Linked DNA regions of Homo sapiens: region 2 is linked to region 1. A link means that fine-mapping ties the variant in region 1 to the expression of a gene that starts in the linked region. Tissue or cell type: whole blood. Region 1 holds a variant in brackets; the other region holds the start of a gene. All regions are shown on one strand. Distances are between the middles of the regions.

Region 1 (5,188 bases):
TCAGTTCCATCACCTGCAAAACAGGACCACATTAGCTTTTCCCTTCGGTATTTGTCCTGACGATTAAATGTGAGTTAATACATAGAAACAAGTCAGGCTTGGTGGCCCACTCCTATAATCCCAGCACTTTGGGAGGCCAAGGCGGGAGAATTGCTTAAGCCCAGGGGTTTAAGACCAGCTTGGGCAACACAGTGAGACTCTGTCTCTACAAAAAAACAAACAAAAATATTAGCCAGAGCCAGGCACGATGGCTCACATCTGTCATCCCAGCACTTTAGGAGGCTGAGATGGGTGGATCACTTGAGGTGATACCAGCTTGGCGACCACGGCAAAATCCTGTCTCTACTAAAAATATAAAAATTAGCTGGGTGTGGTGGCGGGCGCCTGTAGTCCCAGCTACTTGGGAGGCTGAGGCAGGAGAATGGCTTGAACCTGGGAGGCAGAGCTTGCAGTGAGCTGAGATCACGCCACTGCACTCTAGTCTGGGCGACAGAGAGAAACTCCATCTCAAAAAAAAGAAAATTATCTGGATATTGGTGGCACGTGCCTGTAGTACAAGCTGCTTAGAAGTCTGCGGCAGGAGGATTGCTTGACCCCTGGAGTTTTGAGTCCTGGGATTTTGAGGTTACAGTGAGCCATGATCATGCCACTGCATTCCAGCCTGGGTGACAGAGTGAGACCTTGTCTCAAAAAAAAAAAAAAAAAAAAACGGCTAGGAGCAGGGGCTCACAGCTGTAATCCCAGCACTTTGGGAGGCCAAGGTGGGTGGATCACCTGAGGTCAGGAGTTTGAGACCAGCCTGGCCAATATGGTGAAACACCGTCTCTACTAAAAATACAAAAAAATTAGCTGGGTGTGGTGGTGAGTGCCTGTAATCCTACCTACTCGGGAGGCTGAGGCAGGAGAATCACTTGAACTTGGAAGGCAGAGGTTGCGGTGAGCCAAGATCACGCCACTGCACTCCAGCCTGCGCAACAAGAGCTAAACTCTGCCTCAAAAAAAAAAAAAGAAAGAAAGAAACATACCACAGCACCTGGAACATAGCAGTCCCCTAAGGCTAGATGTGCTGGGTGCTGTCGCTGTTACTGTAGTGTAAAATATACTGGCAGAGGCCCGGGAGGCAGAGGTCGCAGTGAGCAGAGATCACGCCACTGCACTCCAGCCTGGGTGACAGAGTGATACTCCGTCTCAAAAAACACACAAAAAACAAAAAACAAAACAAAACAAAAAGCACAAATAAATAAATAAAATACGCTGGCAGAATGGTAGGAGATGAGGCTGGGGAGGTTTGGCAGGGACTAGGAAGGCAGGGATGAGATCCCAAATGGTTTCCAGCACCTGGCTATGGAGGGAAGTGAAGAAGATGAAAATTACTGAGGGATTTTATGCCAGGGGAAGGTCATGATCAGATTTATTTTATTTTATGTATATATTATTATTATTATTATTATTATTATTATTATTATTATTTGAGACACAGTCTTGCTCTGTTGCCCAGGCTAGGGTGCAGTGGCGTGATCTCGGCTCACAGCAACCTCCGCCTCCCAGGTTCAAGTGATTCTCCTGCCTCAACCTCCCAAGTAGCTGGGATTACAGGCGCCAGCCACCACACCAGCTAATTTTTGTATTTTTAGTAGAGACGGGGTTTTGCCATGTTGGCCAGGCTGGTCTCGAACTCCTGACCTCAAGCGATCCGCCCGCCTCGGCCTCCCAAAGTGCCGGGAGTACAGGCATCAGCCACTGTGCCCGGCCTGTTTCTTCTGCCTGGCTGGGCTTCCCTGCATCTCCTACAGTCCTGAAGGCCCAGCTCCAAGGCCCCTCTTCTCTGAGGCATCTTGCATATCTCTCTTTGTCCCCTATACCAGGCCTTGACAGAAGGGTCACTCAGTATCCCTGATGGCTGGAACAACACTTGGAACATCACAGGCACCAGGAAACACTGGCTGAACTACTTACCCGCAAGTCCACCTTCCCCAGTGGTGATGTGGCATTTGAACAAGGCCTTGGCGGCATCGATGTTTCTCTGGAGGTACTGAATGTACTGCAGGACATGCACCAGAATCTCCTTCTGCCTCAAAAGAAAGACAGGGTTGGCCAGGCTCACGCCTGTAATCACAGCACTTTGAGAAGCCGAGGTGGGCGGATCATGAGGTCAGGAGTTCGAGACCAGCCTGGCCAGCATGGTGAAACCCCGTCTCTACTAAAAATACAAAAAATTAGCTGGGTGTGGTGGC[A/C]CATGCCTGTAATGCCAGCTACTTGAGAGGCTGAGGCAGGAGAATTGCTTGAACCCGTGAGGCGGAGGTTGCAGTGAGCCAAGATCACGCCGTTGCACTCCAGCCTGGGCAACATAGCGAGACTCTGTCTCAAAAAAAAAAAAAAAAAGAAAAAGAAAAAGAAAGAAAGAAAGACAGGGTTGAGCACAACAGCCAGGGCTCAAGACAATGTGGGGCTGCTGGGGACCAGAGACACAGCCTGAAGCAAAGGTTGCAGTGAGCTGAGATCATGCCACTGCACTCCAGCCTGTAGCTGTAGCCCCTGTCTCACTGGTCTGCAGTGAGGGCTAGATAGCAGAACAAGAAGGTCTCTGCCGACTGAAGAATTGTTGGGGTGGGTGGGGAATGGGGTCCTTCCTGGAGCCTCTGTGTCTCTGGTCCCCAGCAGCCCCACGTTGTCTTGAGCCCTGGCTGTTGTGCTCAACCCTGTCTTTCTTTCTTTTTCTTTTTCTTTTTTTTTTTTTTTGAGACAGAGTCTTGCTATGTTGCCCAGGCTGGAGTGCAATGGCACGATCTCAGCTCACTGCAACTTCTGCCTGCCAGGTTCAAGCAATTCTCCTGCCTCAGCCTCCTGAGTAGCTGGGACTAGAGGTGCGTGCCACCAGGCCCAGCTAATGTTTTGTATTTTTAGTAGAGACGGGGTTTCACCATGCTGGCTAGGCTGGTCACGAACTCCTGACCTTGTGATCTGCCCGCCTTGGTCTCCCAAAGTTCTGGGATTCCAGGTGTGAGCCACCACGCCCGGCCAATAGTCTTTTTTTGTTTTTTTTTTTTGCGCTTTTTTTTTTTTTTTTTTTTGAGACAGAATCTTGTTCTGTCGCCCAGGATGGAGTGCAGTGGCGCAATCTTGGCTCACTGCAAGCTCCGCCTCCCGGGTTCATGCCATTCTCCTGCCTCAGCGAGTAGCTGGGACTACAGGCGCCCTCCACCACGCCTCGCTAATTTTTTTGTATTTTTTAGTAGAGACGGGGTTTCACCATGTTAGCCAGAATGGTCTCAATCTCCTGACTTCATGATCCGCCCACCTCAGCCTCCCAAAATGCTGGGATTACAGGCGTGAGCCACTGCGCTCGGCCTTTTTTTTTTTTTTTTTTTTGAGACAGGGTCTCTTGCTCTGTTGGCCAGGCTGGAGTTTAGTGGTACCATCTCAGCTCACTTCAACCTCCACCTCCTAGGCTCGAGCAATCCTCCTGTCTCAGCCCCACAAGTAGCTGGGACTACAGGCGCATGCCACCATGCCCAGCTAATTTTTTGTATTTTTTATCGAGATGAGGTTTCGCCATGTTGTTCAGGCTGGTCTCAAACTCCTGGGCTCAAGTGATCCACCCGCCTTGGCCTCCCAAAGTGCTGGGATTACAGGCATGAGCCACCACACCTGGCCTCAGTCTTTTTTTTTTTTTTGAGAGGGAGTCTCGGTCTGTTGCCCAGTCTGAAGTGCAGTGGTACGATCTCAGCTCACTGCAGCCTCTGACTCCCAGGTTCAAGCGATTCTCCCACCTCAACCTCCTGAGTAGCAGGGGCTACAGGAATGTGCCACCACGCTTGGCTAATTTTTGTATTTTTAGTAGAGACAAGGTTTCACCATGTTGGCCAGGTTGGTCTCGAACTACCGACCTCAAGTGATCCACCCACCTCGGCCTCCCAAAGTGCTGGGATTACATGTGTGAGCCACTGCACCCAGCCAGCCTCAGTCTTTTTAAGCTTATTATCTCTAATACCAGGCTTGGAGCATATGGTTGGCACTCGCTAAGAAAAAGTCCTTATAAACCATGAAGTAATATATAAATGTTACTTATTATTACTAGTATAAAGGTTGTATGTAGAAAGCAATTGGGCATCATCCCAGATTTCAAGACAGATGCCTCAGTAATTGAAACTTCAGGAAGGTTAGCTTGGGGGCTACACCAGAGTCTGGACTCTCAAAGACCTTCTGAAGGTAAGATCAACAGGTCCTGTAACTGTCCCAACAAAGGGAGCTCATTCAGTCATTCAACAAACATCTATTGAACCTTGAGTGACAGAATGGTTGAAGGCAAGAGCCTTTGGAGTGAGATACATCTGACTCTATTTCTTTTAAGATGGGGTCTCATGGCCAGGCGCGGTGGCTCACGCCTGTAATCCCAGCACTTTCAGAGCCCGAGGCGGGTGGATCACGAAGTCAGGAGATCGAGGTCATCCTGGCTAACACGGTGAAACCCTGTCTTTACTAAAAATACAAAAACTAATTGGCCGGGCGTGGTGGCGGGCACCTGTAGTCCCAGCCACTCAGGAGGCTGAGGCAGGAGAATGGCGTGAACCCAGGAGGCAGAGCTTGCAGTGAGCCGAGATGGTGCCACTGCACTCCAGCCTGGGGTACAGAGCGGGACTCCGTCTCAAAAAAAAAAAAAAGACAGGGTCTTACTCTGTTGCTCAGGCTGGAGTGCAGTGGTATGATCTCGACTCATTGCAACCTCCACTTCCCAGGCTCAAGCTATCCTCCTGCTTCAGCCTCCTGGGTAGCGGGGACCATGGCTGGCTAATTTTTGTATTTTTTGTAGAGATGGACTTTCGTCACATTGCCCAGGCTGGTCTCGAACTCCTAATCTCAAGCAATCTGCCTGCTTCAGCCTCCCAAAGTGCTGGTATTACAGGTGTGAGCCACTGTGCCTGGCCACATCTGAATCCCTCCCTCTCTCTTTCTCTCTGTCTCTCTTTCTATCTCAACTCTGTGCCTGTGGGCGATGTGACCATTCTCTGCACTTCAGTTTCCTCAGACCAAAGAATGAGCATAGCCATACATCTCTCACAAGCCTTGTGGGAGAGTTAAATGAGAAAAATGTATCTAAGACACTTAGCACTCAAGGTCTGACACCTGGAACGCTCAGTAAGTTGGGAACGGTTGTTACTGCTGTCTGCTGTCTGCTCTCTGCTCTTGC
Region 2 (5,117 bases), 33 kb before region 1:
TCTCAGTACAAGACCTCTCAGATCCTTAGAGTGAGGGGGTCTAGCCCTAGGCAGCAGGCAGCAGAAAGAGGGGTGGGTGTGAGAGCCAGCTAGGAATTGGGGCATCCAAGGCTGGCCGTCTGAAGGGCAGCAGATGGGCCCCACATGGCCAGGTCTTACTGCCTGTCACTCGAACCAGAATCTATTTCTGTTGAACATCTGTTTTTTAAATCGTGAAACTTTTTTGAGTACTTCAGGCCAAAACTAGGGGCGAGCTCAAGCCTGTGGGCATGGCTGCCAGCCTGGGTCTGGGACTCAGGATCTGAGCCTCCTGCTGAAGGCACAGGCTGGGAATCCCAGGCCTGGGTTCCAGTCCCACTCCCTCTGTGACCCTGGACAAGTCACTGCCCCCTCTGACCTCCAACTCATCACCTCTTAGAACAGAGCCTGTAGGATGGGCAGTGGGTGGATGTGCTTGCCTCCTGGGTGGGCTGTGGCGTTGGGAAGGTCATAGTAGGCGAATCAGGCCTGGCATCTTGTAAGTTCGGAGCTCGTCTTGGGTGTCTCAGCTTCTTAGGGCTTGGACTCAGTTGCCCAGGGTCCTGGAGGCCGTGGCTTGGTTCCTCAGATCCTCAGTTTTGGAATCGTAGAGTCCTGAGTCCCTAGAACTTGAGAGCACAGTCTGAGTGACTCAGAGGCAAGAGTGGTGGGATTTGGGGAGTCTGGTTGAGTCCTAAAAGAGACCCCTCTGTCTCCGTAGTTCACAGACGAGGAGACCGAGGCCCAGACAGGGGAAGGAAGTTGGCCCAGGTCACCCAGCAAGTCAGTGGTAGAGGTAGGACTGTCCCTGAGTTCTTTCCCCAGCACCTCAGGGTCCCTCCCAAGTTAGAAGGGAGCTCCAGTTTCCCCCTCCCCTCCCACCCTTACCCTTACCCCATGGTCTCACTCAGGATCCGCCAAGGACTTTGATTATTGCGTGAAAGTGCTGACTGCCAGGACAGGAAGCTAGCTAAGATGCAAGTTCCCAGCCTAGAGCAGTGGCCTCTGGGGGGTCTAGGGCGGACCCAAGGGCAAGGCCAGGGTGGCAGCAGCTTTGGGGACTCTGGGCTGGCTCCCTCCCCTTGACACTGGCTGAAGCCCAGGTGGTCTCTAACCCCTCCCATCTCTCCCTCTCATCTTCCCCAGGGCATCTCCTCCCAACCAGGCAACTCCCCGAGTGGCACAGTGGTGTGAAGCCATGGATATCGGGCCCCCCCAACCCCATGCCCCCAGCCTCCTAGCCATAACCCTCCCTGCTGACCTCACAGATCAACGTATTAACAAGACTAACCATGATGGATGGACTGCTCCAGTCCCCCCACCTGCACAAAATTTGGGGGCCCCCCAGACTGGCCCGGACACGGGCGATGTAATAGCCCTTGTGGCCTCAGCCTTGTCCCCCACCCACTGCCAAGTACAATGACCTCTTCCTCTGAAACATCAGTGTTACCCTCATCCCTGTCCCCAGCATGTGACTGGTCACTCCTGGGGAGAGACTCCCCGCCCCTGCCACAAGAGCCCCAGGTCTGCAGTGTGCCCCTCAGTTGAGTGGGCAGGGCCGGGGGTGGTCCAGCCCTCGCCCGGCCCCCACCCCAGCTGCCCTTGCTATTGTCTGTGCTTTTGAAGAGTGTTAAATTATGGAAGCCCCTCAGGTTCCTCCCTGTCCCGCAGGACCTCTTATTTATACTAAAGTTCCCTGTTTTCTCAGCGGGTCTGTCCCCTTCGGAGGAGATGATGTAGAGGACCTGTGTGTGTACTCTGTGGTTCTAGGCAGTCCGCTTTCCCCAGAGGAGGAGTGCAGGCCTGCTCCCAGCCCAGCGCCTCCCACCCCTTTTCATAGCAGGAAAAGCCGGAGCCCAGGGAGGGAACGGACCTGCGAGTCACACAACTGGTGACCCACACCAGCGGCTGGAGCAGGACCCTCTTGGGGAGAAGAGCATCCTGCCCGCAGCCAGGGCCCCTCATCAAAGTCCTCGGTGTTTTTTAAATTATCAGAACTGCCCAGGACCACGTTTCCCAGGCCCTGCCCAGCTGGGACTCCTCGGTCCTTGCCTCCTAGTTTCTCAGGCCTGGCCCTCTCAAGGCCCAGGCACCCCAGGCCGGTTGGAGGCCCCGACTTCCACTCTGGAGAACCGTCCACCCTGGAAAGAAGAGCTCAGATTCCTCTTGGCTCTCGGAGCCGCAGGGAGTGTGTCTTCCCGCGCCACCCTCCACCCCCCGAAATGTTTCTGTTTCTAATCCCAGCCTGGGCAGGAATGTGGCTCCCCGGCCAGGGGCCAAGGAGCTATTTTGGGGTCTCGTTTGCCCAGGGAGGGCTTGGCTCCACCACTTTCCTCCCCCAGCCTTTGGGCAGCAGGTCACCCCTGTTCAGGCTCTGAGGGTGCCCCCTCCTGGTCCTGTCCTCACCACCCCTTCCCCACCTCCTGGGAAAAAAAAAAAAAAAAAAAAAAAAAGCTGGTATAAAGCAGAGAGCCTGAGGGCTAAATTTAACTGTCCGAGTCGGAATCCATCTCTGAGTCACCCAAGAAGCTGCCCTGGCCTCCCGTCCCCTTCCCAGGCCTCAACCCCTTTCTCCCACCCAGCCCCAACCCCCAGCCCTCACCCCCTAGCCCCCAGTTCTGGAGCTTGTCGGGAGCAAGGGGGTGGTTGCTACTGGGTCACTCAGCCTCAATTGGCCCTGTTTCAGCAATGGGCAGGTTCTTCTTGAAATTCATCACACCTGTGGCTTCCTCTGTGCTCTACCTTTTTATTGGGGTGACAGTGTGACAGCTGAGATTCTCCATGCATTCCCCCTACTCTAGCACTGAAGGGTTCTGAAGGGCCCTGGAAGGAGGGAGCTTGGGGGGCTGGCTTGTGAGGGGTTAAGGCTGGGAGGCGGGAGGGGGGCTGGACCAAGGGGTGGGGAGAAGGGGAGGAGGCCTCGGCCGGCCGCAGAGAGAAGTGGCCAGAGAGGCCCAGGGGACAGCCAGGGACAGGCAGACATGCAGCCAGGGCTCCAGGGCCTGGACAGGGGCTGCCAGGCCCTGTGACAGGAGGACCCCGAGCCCCCGGCCCGGGGAGGGGCCATGGTGCTGCCTGTCCAACATGTCAGCCGAGGTGCGGCTGAGGCGGCTCCAGCAGCTGGTGTTGGACCCGGGCTTCCTGGGGCTGGAGCCCCTGCTCGACCTTCTCCTGGGCGTCCACCAGGAGCTGGGCGCCTCCGAACTGGCCCAGGACAAGTACGTGGCCGACTTCTTGCAGTGGGGTGAGTGCCTACCCTCGGGGCTCCTGCAGATGGGGTGGGGGTGGGGCAGGAGACAGGTCTGGGCACAGAGGCCTGGCTGTTGGGGGGGCAGGATGGCAGGATGGGCATGGGGAGATCCTCCCATCCTGGGGCTCAGAGTGTGGACCTGGGCCCTGGGGCAACATTTCTCTGTCCTATGCCACCACTCTGGAGGGGCAGAGTAAGGTCAGCAGAGGCTAGGGTGGCTGTGACTCAGAGCCATGGCTTAGGAGTCACAGCAGGCTAGGCTGCCAACAGCCTCCCATGGCCTCTCTGCACCCCGCCTCAGGGTCAGGGTCAGGGTCATGCTGGGAGCTCCCTCTCCTAGGACCCTCCCCCCAAAAGTGGGCTCTATGGCCCTCTCCCCTGGTTTCCTGTGGCCTGGGGCAAGCCAGGAGGGCCAGCATGGGGCAGCTGCCAGGGGCGCAGCCGACAGGCAGGTGTTCGGCGCCAGCCTCTCCAGCTGCCCCAACAGGTGCCCAGGCACTGGGAGGGCGGTGACTCACGCGGGCCCTGTGGGAGAACCAGCTTTGCAGACAGGCGCCACCAGTGCCCCCTCCTCTGCGATCCAGGAGGGACAACTTTGGGTTCTTCTGGGTGTGTCTCCTTCTTTTGTAGGTTCTGCACCCACCCCCACCCCCAGCCCCAAAGTCTCGGTTCCTATGAGCCGTGTGGGTCAGCCACCATTCCCGCCACCCCGGGTCCCTGCGTCCTTTAGTTCTCCTGGCCCAGGGCCTCCAACCTTCCAGCTGTCCCACAAAACCCCTTCTTGCAAGGGCTTTCCAGGGCCTGGGGCCAGGGCTGGAAGGAGGATGCTTCCGCTTCTGCCAGCTGCCTTGTCTGCCCACCTCCTCCCCAAGCCCAGGACTCGGGCTCACTGGTCACTGGTTTCTTTCATTCCCAGCACCCTGCCCCTCTGGCCCTCATATGTCTGGCCCTCAGTGACTGGTGTTTGGTTTTTGGCCTGTGTGTAACAAACTGTGTGTGACACTTGTTTCCTGTTTCTCCGCCTTCCCCTGCTTCCTCTTGTGTCCATCTCTTTCTGACCCAGGCCTGGTTCCTTTCCCTCCTCCTCCCATTTCACAGATGGGAAGGTGGAGGCCAAGAAGGGCCAGGCCATTCAGCCTCTGGAAAAACCTTCTCCCAACCTCCCACAGCCCCTAATGACTCTCCTGGCCTCCCTTTAGTAGAGGATGAAGTTGGGTTGGCAGGGTAAACTGAGACCGGGTGGGGTAGGGGTCTGGCGCTCCCGGGAGGAGCACTCCTTTTGTGGCCCGAGCTGCATCTCGCGGCCCCTCCCCTGCCAGGCCTGGGGCGGGGGAGGGGGCCAGGGTTCCTGCTGCCTTAAAAGGGCTCAATGTCTTGGCTCTCTCCTCCCTCCCCCGTCCTCAGCCCTGGCTGGTTCGTCCCTGCTGGCCCACTCTCCCGGAACCCCCCGGAACCCCTCTCTTTCCTCCAGAACCCACTGTCTCCTCTCCTTCCCTCCCCTCCCATACCCATCCCTCTCTCCATCCTGCCTCCACTTCTTCCACCCCCGGGAGTCCAGGCCTCCCTGTCCCCACAGTCCCTGAGCCACAAGCCTCCACCCCAGCTGGTCCCCCACCCAGGCTGCCCAGTTTAACATTCCTAGTCATAGGACCTTGACTTCTGAGAGGCCTGATTGTCATCTGTAAATAAGGGGTAGGACTAAAGCACTCCTCCTGGAGGACTGAGAGATGGGCTGGACCGGAGCACTTGAGTCTGGGATATGTGACCATGCTACCTTTGTCTCCCTGTCCTGTTCCTTCCCCCAGCCCCAAATCCAGGGTTTTCCAAAGTGTGGTTCAAGAACCACCTG

Evidence for each region. PIP is the estimated chance that this variant, and not a neighbour inherited with it, causes the effect.
Region 2: it holds the start of DMPK, and the variant in region 1 is fine-mapped to the expression of DMPK in whole blood (TOPMed, PIP 0.97).

The regions. Positions count from the first base shown.
Region 1 is chr19:45,747,555-45,752,742 of GRCh38, reverse strand. MEIOSIN (meiosis initiator) reads right to left here. Exons shown (of 15, transcript NM_001310124.2): 5 at 1,957-2,068. Among named protein-coding and RNA genes, the nearest start is that of MEIOSIN, 17 kb to the right of the region's middle. RefSeq lists an enhancer at 4,374-5,166. The variant A/C (reference allele first, on the strand shown) is at 2,235.
Region 2 is chr19:45,780,338-45,785,454 of GRCh38, reverse strand. It overlaps DMPK (DM1 protein kinase), which reads left to right and starts at 2,965. Exons shown (of 15, transcript NM_004409.5): 1 at 2,965-3,262. The coding sequence starts at 3,103. DMWD (DM1 locus, WD repeat containing) reads left to right here. Exons shown (of 5, transcript NM_004943.2): 4 at 740-814; 5 at 1,165-2,508. The coding sequence ends at 1,212.